Linked DNA regions of Homo sapiens: all the other regions are linked to region 2. Evidence: fine-mapped expression QTL. A gene starts in region 2. Each other region holds a variant in brackets. All regions are shown on one strand. Distances are between the middles of the regions.

Region 1 (8,177 bases), 70 kb after region 2:
GGGGGAAGGCCTGTAGCTCCGAGAGCAAGGAGAGGATCTGCAAGAGCCTGGCCTCAGCGAGGCTTGCACAAAGCCCCACTGCTGTGTTAATGGCTCTCTGCTCTCAGGCTCAGGTTTTCCCACGGTCTGGGACAGGGTGGAGGCGATGCCATTAGTGGTTGACTCTGCCCCTCCGGCAAGAGGAAAGGTGGAGATGGGGAATTTCTCCCTGCCATTGTCTAGCAGCTCTTGCTACTGACTGTGGTCCATGGGTCAGCAGCATCCACAAACCACCCAGGAACTTGCTGGAAATGCAGAATCTCAGGCTCTGCTCGAGCACGTGCTACAGGCACGTGCATGAGTAACGTGGCCAGGTGCATCCTGGGCATGCTGAAGGTTGAGGGGCATTGATCTGGCCTGCCATCCTCATTGCCTCTTCTCTGCTTCCTCAACAGGTTCTGGGCCTGGAACTTCTGCCTCCTTCCTCCGTGATCTGCCAGGCTCGTGGGCACTTTCCACAGCCCAGGAGAGCTTCTGAAAGGACAGTATAGCTGCCCTTGCTCCCTACCCACAGCACCTGAGTTAAAAAGTGATTTTTATGTTATTGGTCTAAGGGACTTCCATCTTGGTCTGAAGTCCTGAGCTCAGACGCAGGTACTGCCAGCCATACCTTCCTGGTAGCATCTGCTGGACCTAAGTAAGGCATGTCTGTCTAAGGCCAAGTCTGCCCGGCTTAAGGATGCTGGTTCTGACTCTACCCCACTGCTTCCTTCTGCTCCAGGCCTCAATTTTCCCTTCTTGTAAAATGGAATCTATATCTATAAAGGTTTCTTCAAATCCACTCTTGAGTCCACTTACTTGTCTAGTCCTGCAGGCTCAGGCATCCAGGCTGGTCTCCATCTGTGCCTTGGAGAGGGCTCAAGAGAGCAAACCCCAGACCTGGAGGGTGGGAAGGCTTTTAAATTACTTCCTCCTCTGTGGGTTCTGCTCGGAGCCAATGTTCCTGGCCCAGATGTCTTGCGCTTATCGTCATCTGCCCCATGAACTGTAGATTAGTCCATTGCAGGTGGATGCACATATGCACAATCTTCTCCACGAACCTGCTGTAAGCTATTCTGGCTTTCAGTCTCAGCTTCCCTTAGGCATGTGTTTAAGGACTGCAAACTCATTTTGATCTTTGCCTGGGCCAAATATAACGAGGAAGGTAAATCTGTAAAGCATTAGCAAAGCATTGCCAACTCAGAAACAGAAATGATTTTTAGAAGGTCTGCCAGTTTAGAAGCAGCCACTCGTTGGCTTCTCTCCACTGCTCACCAAACCGTTCTGGCCCTATATCTAGCCTTCTCCACCCAGCGTATCCATAGCTTTCCTCGGCTAAAACCACCAACCTCCATTAATCTGCTGAACAGAAAATGCCTAGTCTATTACACGGTGAGCTGCTCAGACAGGAACAATGTTGTCTTCTTCCTGAGTAAACCGCAGTGCAGAGAAGGCCATCTCACACACAGCAGGCATCACACTTGTGGTAAGGGTGGAGGGTGGTGTGGGAGGGTCCTTGGCACGCCCACCTGGGCCCCTCAGCCCAATCCTTTACATCCGTGAAGAGCAACAGGAAAAGACAAGCACCTTTTTTTTTTTCTAAGAAGTTGCTGTATTTAATGCTTCCCCTCCCACCATCCCACACCCTCTCCTACCCAAGACATTTCTCTAGGGAGTAGGGGCCTTGCCCGGCCCTTCCTCTTAAGGCAGATGGTGTGGAGGTAACATCAAACGCAAGGCACTGGCCCAGGGCGCAGGGGTGTGGGCAGGGCAGGAGGCTGGGCTGGCTCCTAGTCATTGGAAGTGAAGCAGGTGGGCAGTTTGGGCTGGTTCCAGCCTTCCAGTGCAATGCCCGAGGACGAGAGTGGTCCCAGAAAGAAACTGGCAGCCCCACTGGCCAACTGCAGCCCTAGCCTATGCCCCACCATCCTTCTCCAGGGGCCAGTCGGCCTCAGCAGGGACCAGAAAAAGCCACAGCCCAGGGAGCAGGTATGGCCTTCCTAAGCCACAATCTCAAAAGTCTCTGTCCTTCATGATTCCTTAAAGGGAGGCAGGGATTCTCCCCGACCCCCCAGAAGGTTCTCCACGGGCTCCATTCTCCCATGTGCCAAACTCGTGCTCTCGGGGAATGCAGAGCCCACTAGGCAGACCCTGCAGCTCCAGTGCCGTGGTTTGGACCGTCACAGCCTGGAGCGCGGGCTCAGTGGCCTGGTCTTCTGGGCCCCGCCGCACCTCCCCCAGCCCTGTGCTCACCTCCCTAAACAGACTCTGGAGTTCAAGATCCAGTGTCCAATGCACCATGGGTGAATTCACAGCAGTGGTGGAGGCAGCAGCAGCAACAGAAAAACCCCCAGCCACAAAAGCACCGGGGTTATTAGTGCAAGAGAAGTACAAGGTCTCCAGGTGACAGAAAGGGTGGCATCGACTAAAAAGGCTAAGGGCTATTTTCCCTGAAACTGCCCCCCTCTTCAGTTCCTCCTGCCCCCACTCCTCTCCCTGCCTCCAGGGGATATCTCAGGGCAATGTCCTCACCTCCCCAAACCTCTCATCCCGCCCCCTTCTTATCCTGCTCCCTGTCCAGGGTTTTGCCCCCGTACACCCTTTCCTCTTCTTCCACTCAAGGCCGGGTGGCCAGGGCTCTCCCTGCAGAAGGGCAGGTCTGCAGTGGAGCTGGACTGTGAGGCTCACAGCTTCCACTTCCCTTTTCGTCCCTTTCTGTCCAGCCCCCACCCGCTTCTTGCCTAAGGAAATTGACAGATATGTCCACATCCTCTTTACCTCTTCTCCATGTCCTCTCGGGAGGCCTTACCCACAGGCACGCCGGTAAGGGAAAGGGCTTCTCTCCCCTGCCTTCATCACCCTGCCTGTTCTGCAGGCCTCAATGTCCAGTGCCAGGGAGTGGCAAGCCCCCTGCCCGCCAGCTCCCCACCTCCCAATGCCCAAGCACCAGAAACAGCCCGTTCTGTGCTTCTGGTCTGACGTGAGCCATCCGGAGGAAGTTAATGCCCTAATCAGTGGCCAGCTGTTTGGTGGCTACTGGGAGATGTGTGTCTCTGGAAGGCACGAGCCTGGGGTGGAGCAGAGACCTGCCCCACGTGGGACCAGTCCCGCGGCCAGGGACAACGCCCAAGGGACATAGGAGTGGGCGGGAGGCCTGCACGTGGGGACAGTCCCTCAGTGCACAACCTCACCCCCGCTCTGGACAGCAGTTTCGGTTTTCTGTTTTTAAAATCCCCGCCCCCCAATAAAATATGTCCACTAGAAGAGGGTCTGGTGGTCAGCGCTTGGCGTGAGGAGCGCTTGGGGGATGTGGGCGTGCACCTTCATGGATGAGGATGGTGTCGCTCAGTCAGATCTCTCCTTCCTGACCCGTCCTTCTCAGGAGCTCTTCCCGTTCTCGACTGAGCAAGTGGTCCCTCCTGGCCTCTCTCTCAAAGTCCTCCCTTCTGAAGGCCCAGGAGGCAGAGACAGGAGCCCCGGAACCTGCCTCTGTGAGGGGACAGCTCCAGGTGGAGTGGGCCGTCAGCTTCGAGGCCTCTTGGGGTCCAGCCGTCACCCCACTCCCCATCCCTGAACAGTAGCAGGGCCCTGG[G/A]GAGCCACTGCTAGTCCAGAGCGGGGAGTGCTGGGCCCCGCGGACACCCTCCGGCTACAGCGTCTTCATCTGGCGACGGCTCCACATGCCTCGCTTGGAATGGAAATGATGGAAGAAATTCCTGAGGGAGAGACGCTCCACGTCCAGGCCCGCTTGGAGTATCCTGGAGGAGGAGAAACACAGATGAGCCAACAGAAGCACAGAAGGCAGCTGGGGGGCCCCTCCCCATCGACCACAGACCCTCTGTTCGCTCCCCACGGGGCAGGGAAGGCAGGTGCAGTGGACGGCTGTGGGCTTTGAAGCCAGGCAGCCTGGGTTTGGATCCCAGCTGCATGACTGGGTATGTCACGCCTTCTTTCAGAGCCTGTCTGCTCATCTCTAGGAGGACGATTATCACATACGTGTAATGAGAGGATAATGTGTGATATAGAATTCTATCTATCTAATATTAGAGTAGACATACTATATACACATCAGAGGTGGGGAAGACGAGAAGGATGGATGCTGAGGGCTCAGCACGGCTCCTGGCACACTCTGAGTGCCCCATAACTGGCGCCCAGCCTCCAGGGCACACGTCATAGACGGAGGAAGGCAGGGCTGCTGCACTGAGACACCTGGCGCCTAGGCCCTCCCCAGGCCTTTTGTGCATGTGCAGCCTGCAGGGTGTCCCTCTCACAGGGAGGCTGCACTTCTGGCAGGGCTGAGAGTGGCCGAACTGGATGCCTGAGCCTCCGAGGAGGCAGGAGGTTCAGGGCTGTACAGGAGCCGTGCATGGCAGCAAAAGCCCAGCACAGAGATCAAGGTGGAGGTGACTGCTGGACCCGGCTTCCCAAATCAAGGCTTCCAGCTGCCCTGGGGGCTCCTTTGATCTCAGACCCTTTTTATGAGCTCCCAGTTATCTACGTTCCTTTACCTTCCCCCTTTTCACTCGAATTCTCTTAGTGTGTCACCTTCCTTTTCTTTCTTCCCTCAACGGGAAAAAACACCAATAGACCTAGTTTTCAAGCCTCTAACGCTTAAGTGAGTGAGATTTGGGGCAAGTTATTAACTTCTCTTCAAGACTCAGTCTTCTCATCTGGAAAATGGAGATCATGATGCCGACCTCACTGAGGTCTGGGGAGAAATAAACGAGGTAACGGATGTGGATGGCCGGCCATGTATAGGGACCCAGTGACTGGTGGATGCATTTTGTCCTGCCTCTCGGGAAGAAGTGAGCGTGTCTTCGTGTCGAGGTCCCGCCCCCAGTGCTCCTGACCTTGCCCTGTCCACCTCCTGTGGACGCTGTTACAGCGCTTATGCCCTTCTGAAGGGTACCCTCCCCTCTCCTTTGCTCCCTCACCATAGGCTCAGATCTCAAGGCACCATCCTCTCTCTGCCCCTTCTCTTGGCAGCACATTTCTTGAAAGAGGAACCTCACACGGAACAGCCTCCGCCTCCTCACCACCCATGGCCTGGTGTCCCTGCCCAATCTTGCTCTCCTTGTCCACCTGCCAAGGCAGCAGCTTGTACTGTGTTCTTCTCTGAGGCTTTTCATCTCATTGACCCTTTCCTCCTGCTCCAAACCCCCAGGTCCCTTGGTGTCTCATGACCCGGCACCTCCTGGATGTCCTCTTGCCCTTCAGTGGTCTACACTGTCTCTTCTGCTGGCCCCAAAGTCTTTCCTGACCTTTGCCAGGTCTACTTATCCATTCCCACAACTCTGGGCTCCCCGCTCGGCAGCTGACGGGAGGCGCACTACCCTCGGGCTGGGGAGGATGCAGTCTCTCCCACGGTGCCCTGCTTGGTGCTGAGAACATCATGGTTTATGTCTACACAGCTTGGTGTACCTGGTACACGGTGTACCAGGCATGTTAATTTTCACACCAACCCTGTGACACAGACAGAGGGCGAGTCACACCCCTCTAATAGAGAAACTGAGTCCCAGCGAGGCCGGTGATTTGAGGGCGTCCTCCGAGTCCAGTGCTCTTTACTGTGCTTTGGGACTCTGCGGCCGAGGGGGACAGCTAGGCTGCTGTAGCCTGGCTCCCTGCCTGGAGCGCCATGGAATTCCCAGGCCTCGTGGATGCCCTCCTCTTCCCAGTCACCTGTCCAGCAGCTCCCAGTCTTCCCCGCCCCAGCGGTCTCGGAACTCCTTGGTGTTCATGCCCCCAATCCTGTCCAGGTCAGACTTGTAGATGCCAAGCAGCCCGAACCCATTCACCTCCCAGTAGCCTGTGGACAGACAGGAGCTTCGGGTGAGATGAGCCAGAGGCCAGGAGGAGGAAGGAAGGAGGCTTCCAGGCTGTGTGCCTAGAGGCTCTTCTGAAAGTCAGAGGCTGGGGTTGAGGGAGGCTGAAAACTGTCTTAGCTGAACAAGTACTTTGCCTGTTTTGGAGGAAAGACCCCTAACTAAGGTTCAGGGCTCAGCAGTGCTACCAGGCTGTGCCCATGGGCTGATAACAACCCTACAAATGGATCGGACAGCGGCAGCCACAGAAGACACAGCTGTGTGTCAGTTTACATGTCCGTTTCCCTTTCCACAGGCAGGGAGGCTACCTTTCCCATCTTTGAATCCCCACAGGGCAGAGCATCTGGCACACAGCAGTGCTTAGTAAGTGTGTGATGAATGAATCAAGGAGAAGACGGCGCAGGAGGTGTGCACTGCTGCACCTGCTGCTGTGGCTGTCAGCTCAGCCCAAGGGGACCTTGTCTGGTGAGTTTTCCGGGGAGTGAAGGCCACAGGAGGGCAGGGTGGGGCAGGGGAGGAGGATGCTGACGCTCATAGATATGACTGTTCCCAGCTCTGGAGTTAAGAGCCAAGATCAGAGAAGTCTTTCCTCCCTCCCCAGTCTGAGCAGGGCTCACCCTCAGGCCACTGGGGGGTGGCCCCACAATGCAGCCTCATCACCATGGGGGCAAAGGCCATCTTTCCCTCCACACAGTGCTTCCGAATGGCATCGATGACTCCAGCTGGGAAGTGGATGTGGAGGTCACAGAGGAAGATGATGCTGTGCGGGTCCTGGGGACAGATGTGGGCAGGGTCAGCAGACCCTGCAGACCAGAGCTAGGAGGTCAGGTCGCCGTCTAGGAGAAGCCTCGGAGTCTTCCCTATTGGAGTGATTCACAAACTCCCACAAAACCAGCTGCTGGGCAGAGTTCCACAGTGCTGAACATTGGAGCACAGGTCTTAACCATCAGAGTGAATTCTGACTCCTCCCCACTCTTTATAGGCTCCAAGGACCCTGGACAACTGGGCAAATGCTCCACTGTGATTTGCTGGTCCCACCCTAGCACTGGCCTGCAGCACAGCAGAGAGGACCTCCTGTGTCCTCATTCCCGTCCTCCCTGAGGGGCTCACCACCTCATTTACCCCAAATGTCTCTCTACCTCTTAACCAGCCTTGAATTCCATCTCGCAGGCCCCATCCAGGCCCTTTACCTTCACGAGGTCTATGCCAGCCTGAAGTCCAGCTGAGCGTTCAAAGTTTCCACTTAGCTTCACGTACTGGTAGCTGCAGGAAGGGGAGAGAGGGCTGCGTATCAGGACTCAGCTGCGGTGGTCCCCTGGAGGAAGTTGGCAGGCATAGAAGAGAGATGATGTGTGCTCCTGGGATGGGATTATGGGCAGGTGAGCCCTCTGGGAAAAGTTGGAGACTAGGAATCAGGAAGGCTGGGCAGGACTCCTGGCTCTACCCTGGACCCAGCAGCCCTAGGACTTTAGGATGGACGTGGCCCATGCCACCCCCTGGCTGGTGGTCCCCCTCACCTCCGCAGCTTGGACCTCTTCAGTGCCATCTCAACATCCATGTCCTCACTGCTATAGTCAGTGATGACGATGTTGAAGTGTGGGTCACCGGTGACCTGGAACAGGTTTTCCATGTCTTTGATGAATTGCTGTACCCAGCGTGCCTGGTTCTTCACTACCCCAGGGGGTCAGGCAGGAGAAGGAAACACAGACAAGGCAAAGATGAGCGGATGAGCGCCTCCACCCCCAGCTCCCAGGTGAGTCAGGAGTGCCCATCGGACCTCGGCTGAGGGGACAGTGCAACTCTGCAAAACCATTAGCAGTGCAGCACAGAGACATGAGGCAGAGGGAGTGCTCACCAGTTAAGGGGGCCTCTGCATCCTGCTCCCCACGTTCCCTCCTCCCAGGCAGGGGACCCACGAGAAGGCCTTGGCTGGGGCTCATTGTCAGTAGCCCTGCCACGCTCTACTAGTGAAACCCTGTTATCTGTCCCTCTTAGTATCGTCGTCCTATCCCCATCATCCTACCTCTGTTGTTACACTTCTGCCTGTTGTGTGTTCCTCCTTCTCATATAAAACCCTGCTCATCACTTCATTAAGTACGCTGCCCGTCTTACTTCCCCAGACCAATGATCATCCCCAGTGTTAGCAACCCCAGTTATCACACCCAATCCTGAAACCTAGTACGAAAGAAAGAGCACTGGCCTATGAGGCAGTGTTTGTTTTTAGCGGCAACATTTACTAGCCACATAACCTTAAACCAGTGACTTTCCTTTTGTGAGCCTCAGTTTCCTCAACTATAAGGTGGTCTTTCTCAGAAGTGCTTATGGGATCAAATCAGTGCA
Region 2 (8,177 bases):
AGAGGAAATGTCTTAAACACAAAGGAATTTAATGTTATGGTGCCCTGGGTCTGAATGCTCTGAAGAGGGCAACATTCTGGAGGTGCCAATTTTCAGATGAGCATTTAAAATGTCAGCGTTGGGCAAACATTTTATTTTGTCTTGAACTCATCCCCCCTTAATATCTTGGGTACGACCATTCTCTACATTTTCTCTCTGTGCTACTAAACTTAGAGGATGCAAGTCAGGATTGGGAGGAGACTGATTTTGTGTGTGTTTGGCCTTTACTGCAGAAGAAAAAGAACTGCAACTAGGCCGGGCGCGGTGGCCCATGCCTGTAATCCCAGCACTTTAGGAGGCCGAAGCAGGCGGATCACGAGGTCAGAAGTTCAAGACCATTCTGGCCAACATGGTGAAATTCCGTCTCTACTAAAAATACAAAAAATTAGCCGGCTGTGGTGGTGGGCGCCAGTAATCCCAGCTACTAGGGGGGCTGAGGCAGGAGAATCGTGTGAACCTGGGAGGCGGAGGTTGCAGTGAGCCGAGATCGTGCCATTGTACTCCAGCCCGGGAGACAGTGCAAAAAAAAAAAAAAAAAAAAAAAAAGAACTGCAACTAATCAACATTTATTTAGTGAGCACAACTTATGTGAGGCACTATAACTTACATAAGTTGTGCTGAACTCATGGTGGCTTATAGTCTATTGGGGGAGGTATATATATCAAGGCGTGACTTGGTAATTACTTGGAGAAGGAGAAATGCAAACTGAAGTAGTTGGCCAAATATCCTAAGGTAGGGTCTTTTGGTTTTGTTAAAGAAGAATAAATTCAGATTCAGGAATGAATGTGGAGAAAACTGGGAATGAAACAGGCAGGAATGAGTAAGCTATCTGGGACAGTGCAAAGGCCTTTCTGACCAGATCAGACGGTGTGTGTGGGGGAAAGCACAACTGGATAGGTGGGGTGGGGCCGAATTATGGGGGATTTTTAAATAACCAGGCAAAGGAATGTGTACTTGATTTAGCAGACAGTGGAAAACTCTAAAGTGGTTTGTTTTTTTTACACAATCTCACTCTGTTACCCAGGATAGAGTGCAGTGGGGCAGTCTTGGCTCACTGCAACCTCCACCTCCTGGGTTCAAATGATTCTCCTGCCTCAGCCTCCTGAGTAGCTGGGACTACAGGCATGTGGCACCACGCTCAGCTAATTTTTGTATTTTAGTAGAGACGGGATTTTGCCGTGTTGGCCAGGCTGGTCTTGAACTCCTGGCCTCAAGTGATCTGCCTGCCTCAGCCTCCCAAAGTGCTGGGATTACGGGCATGGGCCACTGGGCCCAGCCTCAGAAGTTTTTAAATGACATGATTTTTTTTTTTTGGAGACAGTCTCTTTCTGTTGCCCAGGCTGGAATGCAGTGGCACCATCTCGGCTCACTGCAGCGTCCACCTCCTGGTGGAACCAGTGATTCGCCTGCCTCAGCAACCCGGGTAGCTGGGATTACAGGCACGTGCCACCATGTCTGGCTAATTTTTGTATTTTTAGTAGAGACAGGGTTTCACCATGTTGGCCAAGTTGGTCTTGAACTGCTGACTTCAGGTGATCCATCCACCTCGGCCTCCCAAAGAGCTAGGATTACAGGTGTGAGCCACCGCGCCCGGCCTTGTTTTTTTTTAATGGAGGAGTGGGGCACAGTTTTAGGGAGGTTGGTTCAGGAAGGGATGCAAGATAGATTAGAGGGCAGGAATTGATTCAGTTCTCAGAGAACTTCCCTGGAAAAGAAAGTCCTAGATCTTTGCCCCAAGCCCAATGCCAGGCTGAGGTATATTTCACGACCTTTCTGATTGAAATCTACTGACAGAAAATACACTGGATCTAAGATCTTGTGAGATCTTGCCCAAGCTCAACCCGGCCCACTAACCTTTTGTGTTCATGGCATGAAATGCCCACACTTGGTTCTGGTTTGGGCTGGCACCCTCCCCGGCTTGCTTCACTGTGGTGCGATGTTTCCAAAGCTTCCACACTCCAGAAAGGGCTATAACTTCAGTTTCCTCATTTTTACAAAAGGTCAAGTTTTCAAAAGCTTAGATCCGCTGGGATTTGTCTATGTTGATGAAGATACATGAAAACTGGGGGACATTGCAGTTGACCTTTAGAACCCTCTCTCCACCCCCACCCCCATCTCCATTACCCCAGAGCTAAGCCTCCTCAGGACCTAGTACTTCTCTTCATTCAGTGTTTTCTCACACTGCTGAAAATTACCTGTGACTCATACAAGTGGTTCAAGCTGCTCAGTCCCAGACAGGAATGTTGAGTCTTGCCAGCTGACATGTTGGGGTCACAAGAAAGAGAGAGCAAGTGTCCTGTGGGCTGGAATCAGGGGAGATGCACAGACACCCTGTGAACATTCCAGAGTGCAGGGCTGAAGAATGGCCTGAATGGAGCCGTTAGGCTGATTTCCCTGTGGTCAGAGGCTAGCTGCAATTTTACCCTCCCTTCCCTGCCCAAACACTCCTGACACTGGAATTTCATCAAACGGCTACCGTGTTTGGTTTTCAACCAGGACAAACAAAGAAAAGAGATTTGTTTTCCTGTCTGCTTTTGCTGAATGGAATCTCTGATTCTACTTACCAGCGTGCCTCAGACACCCTGGGGCTGGTTAGGACTTTAAGCACACAGGAATCTCAGCTTTACTCAATCTTTTTCCATATCCTGAGCCCGAGTTCAGACTTCATCCTCCCGGGTCCCCCATGTCCCTTCAACGTCTGATTAATTCTCCAGTCAACTCCCTGCTAATAGTCCACCCACAAATTGCTATTTCAGCTGACCTTCCCCAAAACTTGAGCATCCTTACCAAATACCTTGGGCTTCCTCATAACCTGGTTATCTTCTCATCTGCATGCCTTTCTGGAATAATTTTGAAGTATTAAAAAAAACTCCTCTAATTGTCAAGGGCATGCAGGAAGCTCAGCCCCTAAGGAGCATTGCAGAAATCTGGAGTTCTACTCTGTTTATACCTAAATCTAGCCTTCCAGGAGTTTCAGATAGTTTCCTGGAAACATTTTGTGCTTTGTGTTTTTCACCTTTCTCTCTTAATTGAATATGGGGTGAGGAGCAAGAAAGGGGATTGTGAATTACAATTACAAACAGTACACACATAACACAGGGACAATCTTTGCATTTCTCATTTCTGATCCCAGGGATCAGAGGTAGAGGCAGGCCAGGCGCGGTGGCTCACGCCTGTAATCCCAGCACTTTGGAGGCCGAGGCAGGCGGATCACGAGGTCAAGAGATAGAAACCATCCTGGCCAACATGGTGAAACCCCGTCTGTACTAAAAATATAAAAATTAGCTGGGCGTGGTGGCGCGCGCCTGTACTCCCAGCTACTCGGGAGGCTGAGGCAGCAGAATCGCTTGAGCCCGGGAGGCGGAGGTTGCATTGAGCAGAGATCACGCCACTGCACTCCCGCCTGGTGACAGAGGGAGACTCCGTCTCAAAATAAATAAATAAATAAATAAAAATTTAACAAAAAAAGGTAGAGGCAGCTCTCAGGTGAGTAAATTCGCAGATGCCCACGCATGTCTGGAACATACCCCAGGGGTCATTAGAGACTGCCCAGCAGAGGCGGGAGGATCTTCCGTTTGCTTTTCCTTCAGAACGTTTGTCCGGAGAGCATCCTGTTCTGTTATATGCATATCCACCTCCGTCTCCAAATTACTAGGTTGAGCACAGTGCTCAGTGCCTGGCATTGAGTTAGAAATAGAAAATGAGCTGGCGAGTCCCGGCCCGAGGCTGTGACAGGGGCCATTACTGAGCCCACTCCCCACCAACCTTTCTGCGGTTTAACTGACTCTCCTCCTTCCCCTCCAGATCCCAAGGGCTTGACTCCTACCTCCTCTAAGGCATTTTGAAAAGTTTGCAAATGCACCCTTGATCCTAGCACGTACTTAAGAAGCGGCTCCCCCCTAGAACGTCAGGCTTGAAGCTGACCCCTTCTTCCTCCTCCCGCGCCATTTGGGTCTGTGCGCAGGGCCGGAAGCCTGCTGGGGAGGGGCACGAGGCCGGGCTGGGGCCTCTCCGGAGGGAGCCCGCCGCCCCGCCCAGGGCGCACGCACCCAGCCTCTGAGGGAGGAAGCTGAATGGGGCCAGAGGCTGGCCCTCTTTGGGGATTTGCATTATACAGGCTGTATTTAGAAGCAGCGGCGGGGAGCGGTGGCTCACGCCTGTGATCCCAGCATTTTGGGGGGCCGAGGCGGGCAGATCACCTGAGGCCAGGAGTTCGAGACCAGCCTGTCAACATGGTGAAACTCCGTCTGTGCTAAAAATACAAAAAAAATTAGCCAGGCGTGGTGGCCGGAGCCTGCAGTCCCAGCTACTCGGGAGGCTGAGGCAGGAGAATCGCTTGAACCCGGGAGATGGAGCTTGCAGTGAGCCGAGATCACACCACTGCACTCCAGCCTGGGCAACTCAGCGAGACTCCGTCTCAAAAAACAAAACAAAACAAAACAAAACAAAAAACCAAGAAAAAGAGAATAAAAAAAAATAGAAGCAGCTTTCTTGCTGATAGAAAGCAATGACCCTCTCTGCTATAATTACAACTGAAGAGTCACTTTCTTTCAAAAACTCTATTTTCAGATGTTTACCACTTTCTTTAAAAAGGAAAAAAAATTTGCCTCAAAGGCAGGCAGTCCCCAGGGCATTTCTGGTCTCCTGGGGAAGGAACCTAAGAGCGGTTTGGTAAAATTCCATTTTGCTATCTTGGCGTTACCTAAGGGCAAGAACTGAGGTGGGGCTTTGGTGACAGCAGGGGCTGAAGAGTGCTCTTTTTCATCATCCAGGGTGTCCAATTGTTTTGTTTCCCTGGGCCACATTGGAAGAATTGTCTTGCCCCACACATAAAATACAGCAACACTAACAATGGCTGATACACTTTTAAAAAATCGCAAAGAAACTTCATATATATATATATATATATATATATTTTTTTTTTTTTTTTGAGTTTTGCTCTTGTCGCCGAGGCTGGAGTGCAACGGCACGATCTCGGCTCACCACAACCTCTGCCTCCCAGGTTCAAGTGATTCTCCTGCCTCAGTCTCCTGAGTAGCTGGGATTACAGGCATGCGCCACCAGGCCTGGTTAATTTTGCATTTTTAGTAGAGACGAGGTTTCTCCATGTTGGTCAGGCTGGTCTCAAACTCCTGACCTCAGGTGATCCACCTGCCTCGGCCTCCCAAAGTGCTGGGATTACAGGCGTGAGCCACCATGCCCAACCAAGAACTCATAATGTTTTAAGACAATTTACGAATTTGTTTTGGGCCGCGTTCAAAGCCGTCCTGGGCTGCACGGGGCCCACAGGCTGTGGGTTGGACAAGCTTGCTGGACTGTCATGAAGTTTTGAGTAGGTTAATTGCGTGGAGAGACCTGGAAGACAGGATCCTGGGTTGTACTGTACTCTCCCCGCCATTGGACCTGTGCTCCCTCCACCCAGGTGGCATCGCAGTGGCCAATGGAGAACAGAGCCAGACTGCCTCGGTGCAAATCCCAGGCTCCTAGTCCTGTGGACCACTTACTCCTTCGGTGAACTTGGGAAGCTGTTCATCCTTCCGGCTTCAGTTTTCCCACATGTAAAATGAAGATAATAATGGCACCTACCTCAGAGGATCATTGTGAGGATTAAATGAATTACCACAATAAGAGGGTATCATTGCCAGAAAGGGGTCCCGATCCAGACCCCAAGAGAGGGTTTTTCGGATCTTGTACAAGAACTCTGGGCTAGTCCATGAAGTAAAGTGAAAGCGAGTTTGCTAGACAAGTAAAGAAACACGAGAATGGCTACTCTATAGGCAAAGCAACCCTGAGGGCTGCTGGTTGGCTATTTTTATGGTTATTTCTTGATCATATGCTAAACAAGGGGTGGGTTATTCATGAGCTTTTTGGGAAGGAGATGGAGATTTTCCCCCTCCCCCAGTTGAGGACTCCTCCTTCTTTTAGACCATATAGGATAATTTCCAGGTGTTGCCATGGCATTTGTAAACTGCCATGGTGCTGGTGGGAGTGTCTCTTAGCATGCTAATGTATAATTGGCATATACTGAGCAGTGAGGACAACCAGTGGTCACTTTCATTGCCATCTTGGTTTTGGTGGGTTTTGGCAGGCTTCCTTACTGCATCCTGCTTTATCAGCAGGGCCTTTGTGACCTGTGTCTTGTGCTGACCTCCTATCTCATCCTGTGACTAAGAATGCCTAACCTCCTGGGAATGCCACCTAGCAGGTCTCAGCCTCATTTTACCAGCCCCTATTCAAGATGGAGTCATTCTGGTTCGAATGCCTCTGCCATAGACACGTATTATATATGCATTACCATGCTTATGTTTTTTGCTTTCCCTGTCTGTAAAATGAGGAAATGCTATTAACTGTTATGTTGGTCACTCTGTACCAGAAAAGCCAGGAAGAGTGTCCACTGTGTGCCAGACCCTTGTAGGTGACGCTGTGAGGAGACGCAGAAGAACGGAAAGACCTGGCTCCTTCCTATGTACTCTGAGATCTCTATGAGGAGGCTTCCCCCTTCCCCTCTAGGAAGACTCCTCATAGAGATCTCAGAGTACATACGAAGGGGAAACATCCACACCCAGTTTTCCCTGGTGGAAAGGTGTGACACAGAGGCCTGCCAGAGGCTCATGGCCCCTTCTCCACCCAGAGCAGCATCTCAGCTCAACCTGGGGATCCAGTAAAGCGGTGCAGGGATCCTGCAGGCTCTGGCAAACTCAGCCTTGACCTTTGGATCCAGCTCTCTGTCCCCATGGCCAGTCTTTTCACTCCCAGGCCTTCTGTCTGGCACAGGGTGTGAAAGAGGAGCCGGGGGCAGGGCGGGGAGGATGCGGCAGGGACAGGGACAGGACAGGAAGGACTTGGCCTAGCTGATTGAGACTTTTTTTTTCTTTTTGAGACGGAGTCTCGCTCTATCGCTCAGGCTGGAGTGCAGTGGCCCAATTTCAGCTCACTGCAACCTCCACTTCCCGGGTTCTCCTGCCTCAGGCACGCAAGTAGCTGGGATTACAGGCATGCACCACTGTGCCCAGGGATTACAGGCATGCGCCACTGTGCCCAGCTCCAGTTGAGATTTTGGCAGGGGTCTCTTGAGCAGCTGATGGGCTCCTGTCACTGCGCCCAAAGTCTGTCCCAGGCGAGTCTGGTTCCACTTAAGCCCAGGTCTGGGCACAGAGGTGCCACCCTTAATGTGTGTGCAGTATGCTGCAGCTGTACCCACGAAGTCTGCCCCTGCCTCTCATGAACACCCAACCCATTCGAGGCTCCAATAATTAGAATTTTCCTTGCTTCACTTTATCCATCTAAATCCTATCGAACTTGTCAAGGGCTACGTCAGTCTCACCTCCTCCATGAAGCCTTCTCTGATTGCCCAGCTGACATCAGTCTTACTGTCCTAAGTTTCCTAGTTCTCTATTTCATTCATTTAGAAATTAGAAAGTAGAAATGTACTTAATTATATTCTCAAAAAATATTTGAGCACCTGTTTGATTGCAAGGCAGGGAGGGTGGCTGTTGGGGCATCCATGAAAATACAGGACAGAATCTTCTAACAAGAAGCTTCAATTCTAAAAGGATGATAAAAATTCTAAAGGCATGGCCTAGAAAATTCCTTATTGCCATATATTGCTTTTCAGGTTGGATGCTATGATTTAATTCAAAAATAATAGTTAACAGTTATTAGGTGCTTGCTATGGGCCATTACTGTATTTAGCACTTTACACAAATTATTCTATTGAATTTTTTTTTGAGATGGGGTCTGGCTCTGTCACCCAGGCCGGTGTTCAGTGGTACAATCATAGCTCACTGCAACCTCGAACTCCTAGGCTCAGACAACCTTTCCGTCTCAGCCTTTTGAGTAGCTGTAACTGCAGGCATGTCTTACCACACCTGCGTACTCTTTTAATTTTTGTAGAGACAGGATCTCACTATGCTGCCCGGGCTGGTCTTGAACTCCTGGGCTCAAGCAATCCTCCCGCCTCAACCTCTCAAAGTGCTGGGATTATAGGCGCAAGCTACAGCACCAAGCTAAGTTATTTTATTTAACTCTTAATAGTACCCCATTTGGTAGATACTATTATTATTATTATTCCTACTTTAGAGATAAGGAAACTAAGGTGCAGAAAGGTTGACTGCCTCGTGTCAGCTAGTGAGAAAGCC
Region 3 (8,177 bases), 40 kb after region 2:
ATCATCTAGATTTCCTCCTATGCTACTGTCCAGGAGTTTTATAGTTTTGTGTTTTACATGCAGATCTATGATCCATTTTGAGTTAACTTTTGCGAAGCGTGTAGGTCTGTGTCTAGATTCTTTTTTTTTTCTTTTTGCATGTGGATGTCCAGTTATTACAGCACAATTAGTTGAAAAGAGTATCTTTGCTACATTGTATTATCTGTGCTCCTTTGTCAAAGATCAGTTGACTCTATTTATGTGGGTCTATTTCTGGACTCTATATTCTGTTCCATTGATCTACTTGTCTATCCTTTTGATAATATCACACTGTGTTGATTACTGTAGCTTTGTATTAAATAAGTCTTGAAGTCGGGTGGTGTCAGTCCTCTGACTTTATTTTTTTCCTTTAATATTGAGTTGGCTATTCTACATCTTTTGCCTCTCTATGTAAACTTTAGAATCGGTTTGTTGATATCTACAAAATAACTTGCTGGGATTTTGATTGGGATTGCATTGAATCTATAGATCAAGTTAGGAAGAACCGATGTCTTGACAAATATTGAGTCTTTCTATTCATGAACATAGAATAGCTCTCTATTTATTCAGTTGTTTTGTTTCTTCCTTTTCTTCCTTTTTTTTGTTTTGTTTTTGTTTTTTAAAAAAAATTGAGATGGGATCTTGCTATATTGCCCAGGGTGGTTGTGAACTCCCGGACTCAAGTGATTCACCCACCTTCGCCTCCCAAAGTGTTGGAATTACAGTCATGAGCCACAGCACCTGGCCCAGTTCTTTGGTTTCTTTCATCAGAGTTTTGTAGTTTTCCTCACATAGATCTTGTAATTATTTTGTTAGATTTATATGTAAGTAGTTCATTTTTATTGATACATAATATCTGTACATATTTATGGAGTACATGAGTAGTTGATTTTTTGAGGACTAATGTAATGGCATTGTGTATTTAATTTCAGATTCCACTTATTCATTGATGATCTATAGGAAAACAATGGACTTTTTTATATTAACCTTGTATCCTGCAACCTTGTAATACTTGCTTATTAGTTCCAGGGATTTTCTTTATTATTTTCGATTTTCTTTATTATTTTCAATTTTCTACATAGACAATCTTGTCATCTGTGAACAAAGGCAATCTTGTTTCTTTCTTCCCAATCTGTATACATTTTTTTCTCATCTTATTGCGTTAGCCTGGAGTTCCAGTATGATGTTGAAAGGGAGTGGTGAGAGGGGATGTCTTGCCTTGTTCCCTGTCTTCGTGGAAAAGCTCTTAGTTTTTTACCATTAAGTGTGATGTTAGCCACAGGTTTTTTGTAGATATTCTTTATCAAGTTGAGGAAGTTTCCCTCTATCATTTCTTTTTTACTTTTATTTAAGCTATTTGTAATTTATTTGATAAATAATTTGCCCCCTTCCCTGATAAGTTGGTGATGCTGCTGCTGTTGCTGCTGCTGCTTCTTCTTCTTCTTTTCTTTCTTCCTCTTATTCTTCCACTTCCTCCTCCTCTTCCTCCTTCTCCTCATCCTCTTCCTCCTCCTCCTTCTGCTCCTCCTCCTCCTTTTTGAGACAGGGTCTCACTCTGTCATCCAGGCTGGAGGCAGTGGCACACTCACGGTTCACTGCAGCCTCAACCTCCTGGGCTCAAGCGCTCCTCCCACCTCAGCCTCTTGAGTAGCTGGAACTACAGGCCTGCACCACCACGCCTGGCTAATTTTATTTTTTGTAGAGACAGGGTTTTGCCCTGTTGCCCAGGCTAGTCTCAACCTCCTGGGCTTAAGTGATCCTCCTACCTCAGCGTCCCACAGTGCTGGGAAGCTGTGATGAAGATGGGAGCTTCATCTACTGATATCCTTGTAACTCACAAATTTCTGATGAAGCTGGGAGCTTCATCACAGGCATGAGCCACTGCGCCCTGCCTGTGATGCTTCTTTAACAATCGCTAGGTTTTCAGATCTGTTTCAAAGTTGACTGAGTAGTAAATGTTGATGTATTGCAGGGAAATTCTTGCCTTCTTATTCTTTTCTTCCCCTAAGAGTTCTTAGTAATTGTGCTTTAATACTTTACCAAATGAACAATGTAGTCATTACACCCAGTTAGTATTGCAGTGAACCTAATAAATTGAGAATGGTTCCTATATTTAACATAGATTTCTGGATTTTTTCCATTAAAAAATCTTCTTTCCTACTATATTTATAACATCTGTATCCACTCTACTTTTGTCTGTTCATTTTTTTTCCCTGTTTTTTTCTTGATTGCATTTTTAGGGAAAGGATTTATTTTACTTTTCTTTAAAAAAATCCATTCCATAGTTTCATTTACTCAATCTACTGATAGCCTTGTAACTCACAAATTTCTGTAATTATCTTAATTTTGTTCTTCCTTGCTGTTTTCCTAAGGTGTGTTTTATTGTCTTTTCATAACTTTTCTGAGATGAATTTCAGTTGGCTTATTTTCACTAATTTTTATAATGACAGTATTTATCCCTGAACAGAGCTTGGACTTGGACTACATTCCTTAGTATGTTCTGCTTCTTACAACTAACCAAATAATTTGTAATTGATTTTTTTTTAAATTTTGAGATGGAGTTTTTCTTTTGGTGCCCAGGCTGGAGGGCAATGGCACAATCTTGGCTCACTGCAACCTCCACCTCCTGGGTTCAAGCGATTCTCCTGCCTCAGCCTCCCAAGTAGCTGGGATTACAGGCATGCGCCACCTCGCCCGGCTAATTTTGTATTTTCAGTAAAGACGGGGTTTCACCACGTTGGCCAGGCTGGTCTTGAACTCCTAACCTCAAGTGATCCGCCAGCCTCGACTTCCCAAAGTGCTGGGATTACAGGAGTGAGCCACCGCTCCTGGCCAGAGAAGCTAGTTATTCTGTTTCTTCGTAATCTGTGTCTAATATCTTTCTCCATTTGTTCAACACCTGTTTGTTGGATATTCACAAGAATGTACCGTGACGGGTCCACTCTGAATCCCTCCGGCAATGACGATGACTCCCTCATGTTATCTAGGAGACACCTAACTGTTTTATGTGTGCCCTACTGTTGTCGCAGCAGCCCAGTGAGGTAGGGACTATCTTTTATCCCATTTTGCACTTGGGGACACTATGGCTCAGACAACTTAGCTTGTTCAAGGTCACCTAGCAGCAGGCAGTAAAGCCAGACTTGACCCCATTCTGGCTTCAAAGTTCCTATTTTTCATCTGTCACAGATTAATGGTAAGTTCACCGAGAATGCAAACAAGATATGCGTTTGGCTACAGCCTGGCGGCTGGGGCTCCAGGCCTTCAGGCTAAAGGAGCAGTTGGAAGGATGAGCAGAGCAGGAGGGGCAAAGGGAGTGACCCGGGAAAAACGCCTGGGGGCCTCTGTTTGCTCAAAATTGACTAGTTAAGTCACACACCATACCTGCCGCCGGCCACGTCACTCTTTCAGAAGGCTTTCCTGTTCTAATGAGGCCCAGAACCTGAGAAATATCTCTAAAGAAACACCCTTGGCCCTTGCAGCCAGCTCCCACAAAGTCTGGCAGCACCCCCAGCCCAGCTGCACGATAAGATAAGACGTGCCCAAGGGACCTGGGGCGAGAAGCCAGACTGGTGACACTGCACTGCTCCCTCCGTGACATCTGTTCACAGCAGACACTGTCCCTCCAGGGACTCGGAGCTCAGCCAAAAGGCCCCTGCTTTTAAGACCAGCTCTATGGAACTCCGCTAGCACTGCCCATCCAGAGAGCTTCTGCAATCAGAGTTGCCCCCAACCCTCTGACCAACCTAGTAGGTGAATCAGCACTCAGTCCTGGGCAGCAGGTCTTAGTAGTCATGACTAGCAGAAAGGACCTTGCATCAGGAGAGCGCACAGCCCCAGGTTGTTGACGTGTGTGCAGCTGGGCATGAGTGACAGGGCTATTTCTGCCCACCAAAGTGCTCTCAGCAAGCAGGAGGTGAAGGGAGATGCTGCCGGGAATTGTAAGATCTAGGCATGGCACCCGCTGCTTGAACCCTGCTAAGGACTGGGGCCCCAACACCCTGCAGTACCTAAACTGCCCTGATGGTTGGTTCACACAGACCACATGATGGTGAGAGGCCCTCACAGCACTGAATCCAGAAACAGGAGCCAGAGAACCTAGGGACTGTCATACCATTTTGAAAAGAGGCACCACTCTCGCTGAACTTCTTTTCTCTGCCACCTCCCTATAACCTTGATAGT[G/A]AGTGCTAGTGTCCTGGATTCTGATCAGCTGTAAGCATCAGCCTCCCTATAACCTTGATAGTAAGTGCTAGTGTCCTGGGTTCTGATCAGCTGTAAGCATCAGCCTCCCAGTAACCTTGATAGTAAGTGCTAGTGTCCTGGGTTCTGATCAGCTGTAAGCATCAGCCTCCCTATAACCTTGATAGTAAGTGCTAGTGTCCTGGGTTCTGATCAGCTGTAAGCATCAGCCTCCCAGTAACCTTGATAGTAAGTGCTAGTGTCCTGGGTTCTGATCAGCTGTAAGCATCAGCCTCCCTATAACCTTGATAGTAAGTGCTAGTGTCCTGGGTTCTGATCAGCTGTAAGCATCAGCCTCCCTATAACCTTGATAGTAAGTGCTAGTGTCCTGGGTTCTGATCAGCTGTAAGCATCAGCCACAAAGGACTATGCCCTTGACAGGCTTCCAGGCGCCCTGGGCAGTGGCTGGGCGGACTGCTGTAATCCCACCAGGCAGCTGCATCTGTGCAGGTTCCCGCAGGTGCCCCTTTCACACAAGAGCCACGTTCCTGGAAAGTTGTTCATCAACTGAGTCCTATTGGGGCTGCAACGCTGAGGGTGCGTTTTTAGACTATGAAGGCACAAAGTTGCCACCCAGCCAGAGGCACAGGGTGTCGTCTTCCACCCCTCCCTTTCCCCACCCTCAGCATCCAATCGCTCACCCAGTCCTGCCAGTTCTGTTTCCTCACCCTCTCTTGGGGCAGTCCCATTTTTATACCCACTGCCAATGCTGTGCTGCAGACCTCCAGCAGGGCTCCCGCGCGTGGCTCTCCGCTCCAGCCCATCCTTCGAGCCGCTTCCATCATGGTCCTGCTAAAATGCTGCTACAGCACATTGGGAGGCTGAGGCAGGAGGACCACTTGTTTGGGACCAGGATTCCAGACCAGCCTGTGCAATATAGCAAGACACCGTCTCTACAGAAAATAACGAAAATAAAAAATAAGACGCTGCTCTAAGGATGCCACTGGCTGCGGATAACCTTCCTACTGCTCCCTGCTGCCCTCAGGACAAAGCCTAAGTGCCTCATCAGCCCCTCCCTGATCCGCTGCCCCACACCGCTCCACCTCTGCCTTCCACCTGTACCCTAGGACCCCTTGGGTCCTGACAGGGAGACCCCGCCCTCTCTGAGACGGCTGCCACAGCAGCCCATCTGCCTCACCCCACGGAGGAAAACTGAGTCCAGGAGACAATCCCCCCCTAAATTTACCAACTGTTTCCCCCCTTCCAGAAGTTTCTTGAGAGCAGGAGCCATATGGATTCGTCTCTGCATGCCCAGCCTGAGACATCAGTGCCTAGGACTCAGGAGGCATACCCAGCACATGCTTGTAGAAGAAAGAAAGAAACAGGGAAGGTGTTTTTTGCTATTTATCGCATATTTAATTTCATCTTTATTATATTTTTCCTGATTGTAACAGGATGATGTCTTAGGTGTGAAAAATTAGAAGTGGAAGTGTTAGAGCTCTTCTAGAATTTGTCTAGCAGGTTCTCTGGTTTTTACTGAAACCAAACTCCCATGAGAAAACAACCTACAATTGGGAAAATACATAACTTAGAAAGAAAGGGAAAGTCTTTAGTGTGATAGAAATTCCTCCCATATCTGTTTCCTGTGCTTATTCTAATGCATTGAAATATAAAGTAGATCCTCTGAATACTTTGTTTCATTTTTACCAATATAGAATCATATCATGTTCTTACTGACTTGCTCCCCACTAAATACATTTTAGATATCTTCTGTATCTAATCATAGGGATCTACCTCATTCTTTTTGTTTTGTTTCATTTTGTCCATTGTTTTTTACTGATTGAACAAGAACACCTCTCTCTTTTCAAAGACACATGTAGTATTTAATTGTGTGGTTGTAGGCCAGCTTATTTAGCCCACACACCCTTGATTACAATTTGGCTCATTCCCAGTTTTTGACATTATCAATAATGATGCATGGAATAGCTTGTCTTTTTGAGCTTTGGGGAGCATTTTCTGTGGGAGACTTATTCTGTGGGAGACTCCTAGAAGTGGACTTACTAGGTAAGACTATTTTAAATTTTAATAGATAATTGTCAGATTGTCCTCCAAAAAAAAATGATTGTAACAATTCTGGTACGTTTGGTAGTAATTTACATTTCTACCAAGGACGTGAAAGTGCTTGCTTAGCCATGTCTTCACCAACACTGAGTATTATCAGTCTCTTAAGTCTTCGCCAATCATGTAGGCTATCATATCTATTACACAGATTTGTGATGTTTCTTCAGGGGCTTGCTTGTTTGTACTCAGTTTTTCTGTTGGCTCATTTTTAAGGCCTCCACAGACTTCAGGATAATCAGTCCTTTGTGCTCTGTGCAGCAGTGTTCCCCCCGTTTCTCTTTGTCTCCTGATTTTGTGTGGTGTGTGGTGGTCGAGGAAATGGCTGGAGCACACACTCTGAAGGCAGGCTACTGGGTTTTGTCTGTAACTTACTGGCTGAATGACCATAGTTTAGTTACTTAACCTCAGAGTCCCTTAGATAAGGACAGTACTTATCCCAGGGATTGTTATGAGAATGACACGACTTCAGATATATAAAGTGTTCTGTGCAGGGTTTGACATGAAATGAGCGCTATAAGTGTATATGCTATTATTATTTTGCATTCAAATAATTTTAATTTTATGCAGTCAAATGTATTAATCCTTTATGGCTTCCGGATTTGATGTCATAGTTATAAAGGTTTTCCTCATTCTAAGATTAGAAAGAGATTCACAAAGGGGACTATTTGAAGGAGTCTGCGGGGAGTCCATTTGCAAGATGTCTCCTCCTCCCTTCCCTCCCTTCTGTCCCTTCCGTCCCCTCCGTCCCTTCCGTCCCCTCCGTCCCTTCCGTCCCTTCCGTCCCTTCCGTCCCTTCCCTTCCTTCCGCCATTTTGCTGTCTTGTAAATTGATTTGGCTTTTCACATAGTGGGAATTTTTTTCAAGGGGAAACCTATCTGTGTTTACATAGTGGAAGGATGATACACTGGTCTGGGGACTATGTTGGCTGTCGTGTCATGCCTAAAGTGTAGGCCTGTGTAGGTCGTCCCCTCCCTTCATGGATAAAACAACTACTAGTTATCAGTAAGTGCCAGCCTCATACTACGGCTCCTACCCTGAAGGAGTTCACCGTCCAGTGAGAGAACGGATAGTGATCAGGTGAGAGGTGTCACCAAGGCCCTGTGGTGGAAATAACCAGCTTAATGGAAGGAAGAGCTTCCTGGGTGGACGGCGAGGAAGGGCCCAGAGGGCATTTCAAACACGGGGGATGGGGTGTTCAATCTGCTCTACAGATCCTGGTGACCTGCCTGTGAGGCGCAGGGTCCCTGGCCACCCCCACCCCCCACCTGCACAGAGGCCCCGGGGCAGGGAAGAATGGCTCAGCGCTGGGCAGGGTGAGATGGAGAGTGGTCAGAGGCCAGACCACAAGCATCGGGCCAAGACTAGGAAAGCCCAGCTCCCCTCCCAGCTGTAGAACTTCACTGGTCAGAGAGCCTGAGGAGCCCTAAGAAAGGGACTTCAGTCCTCTGGGGCTCCCTTTGCGTGTCCTTACAATGCAGCCTCAGCTTCTGTCCTTAGGCAGCTGTGCAAATTCTGTAAGATGGTGCATGTGCAGACATTCTGTCCTGCACAATAAAAGTGGACACCTTTGGGGCACTTCCTGCCGCCGCTTGACCGGGAGTTGCTCCCGCCATGGGGGCTGTGCTGTGGGTTCAGCCTGTCTGCATTGCCAGGGGTTCCTGGGCCTGCTTCCTGTGGAGGGGCAGCTTCACCCTGGATGCAGACCTCCCCGTTTGCAGCCCGTCCTGGTGAGCTGACTCTTGCCTCCTGGTCCCCTAGTCTTTTTGTTGACCCAGATCAGGACTCTAGTCCAATACTATTGAACCCTGGCAGAGATGCTCCACAGGAAGGGCTGAGCCTCCTCCTCCCACAGGTGTTTAGT

Evidence for each region.
Region 1: its variant is fine-mapped to the expression of NINJ2-AS1 in Th17 cells (Schmiedel 2018, PIP 0.95).
Region 3: its variant is fine-mapped to the expression of NINJ2-AS1 in whole blood (INTERVAL, PIP 0.98).

Annotation. Positions count from the first base shown.
Region 1 is chr12:556,939-565,115 of GRCh38, reverse strand. It overlaps B4GALNT3 (beta-1,4-N-acetyl-galactosaminyltransferase 3), which reads right to left. Exons shown (of 20, transcript NM_173593.4): 16 at 7,355-7,508; 17 at 7,028-7,100; 18 at 6,455-6,608; 19 at 5,695-5,821; 20 at 1,607-3,773. The coding sequence ends at 3,665. It overlaps NINJ2 (ninjurin 2), which reads left to right. Exons shown (of 4, transcript NM_016533.6): 4 at 435-820. Among named protein-coding and RNA genes, the nearest start is that of NINJ2-AS1, 70 kb to the left of the region's middle. RefSeq lists an enhancer at 1,866-2,367. The variant G/A (reference allele first, on the strand shown) is at 3,611.
Region 2 is chr12:626,674-634,850 of GRCh38, reverse strand. It overlaps NINJ2-AS1 (NINJ2 antisense RNA 1), which reads right to left and starts at 3,960. Exons shown (of 5, transcript NR_122124.1): 1 at 3,866-3,960; 2 at 2,604-2,637; 3 at 2,235-2,342. All of the region lies in intron 1 of NINJ2 (ninjurin 2), which reads left to right. RefSeq lists silencers at 3,935-4,034, 4,095-4,174.
Region 3 is chr12:587,094-595,270 of GRCh38, reverse strand. All of the region lies in intron 1 of NINJ2 (ninjurin 2), which reads left to right. It also overlaps the pseudogene RNU7-103P. Among named protein-coding and RNA genes, the nearest start is that of NINJ2-AS1, 40 kb to the left of the region's middle. The variant G/A (reference allele first, on the strand shown) is at 4,198.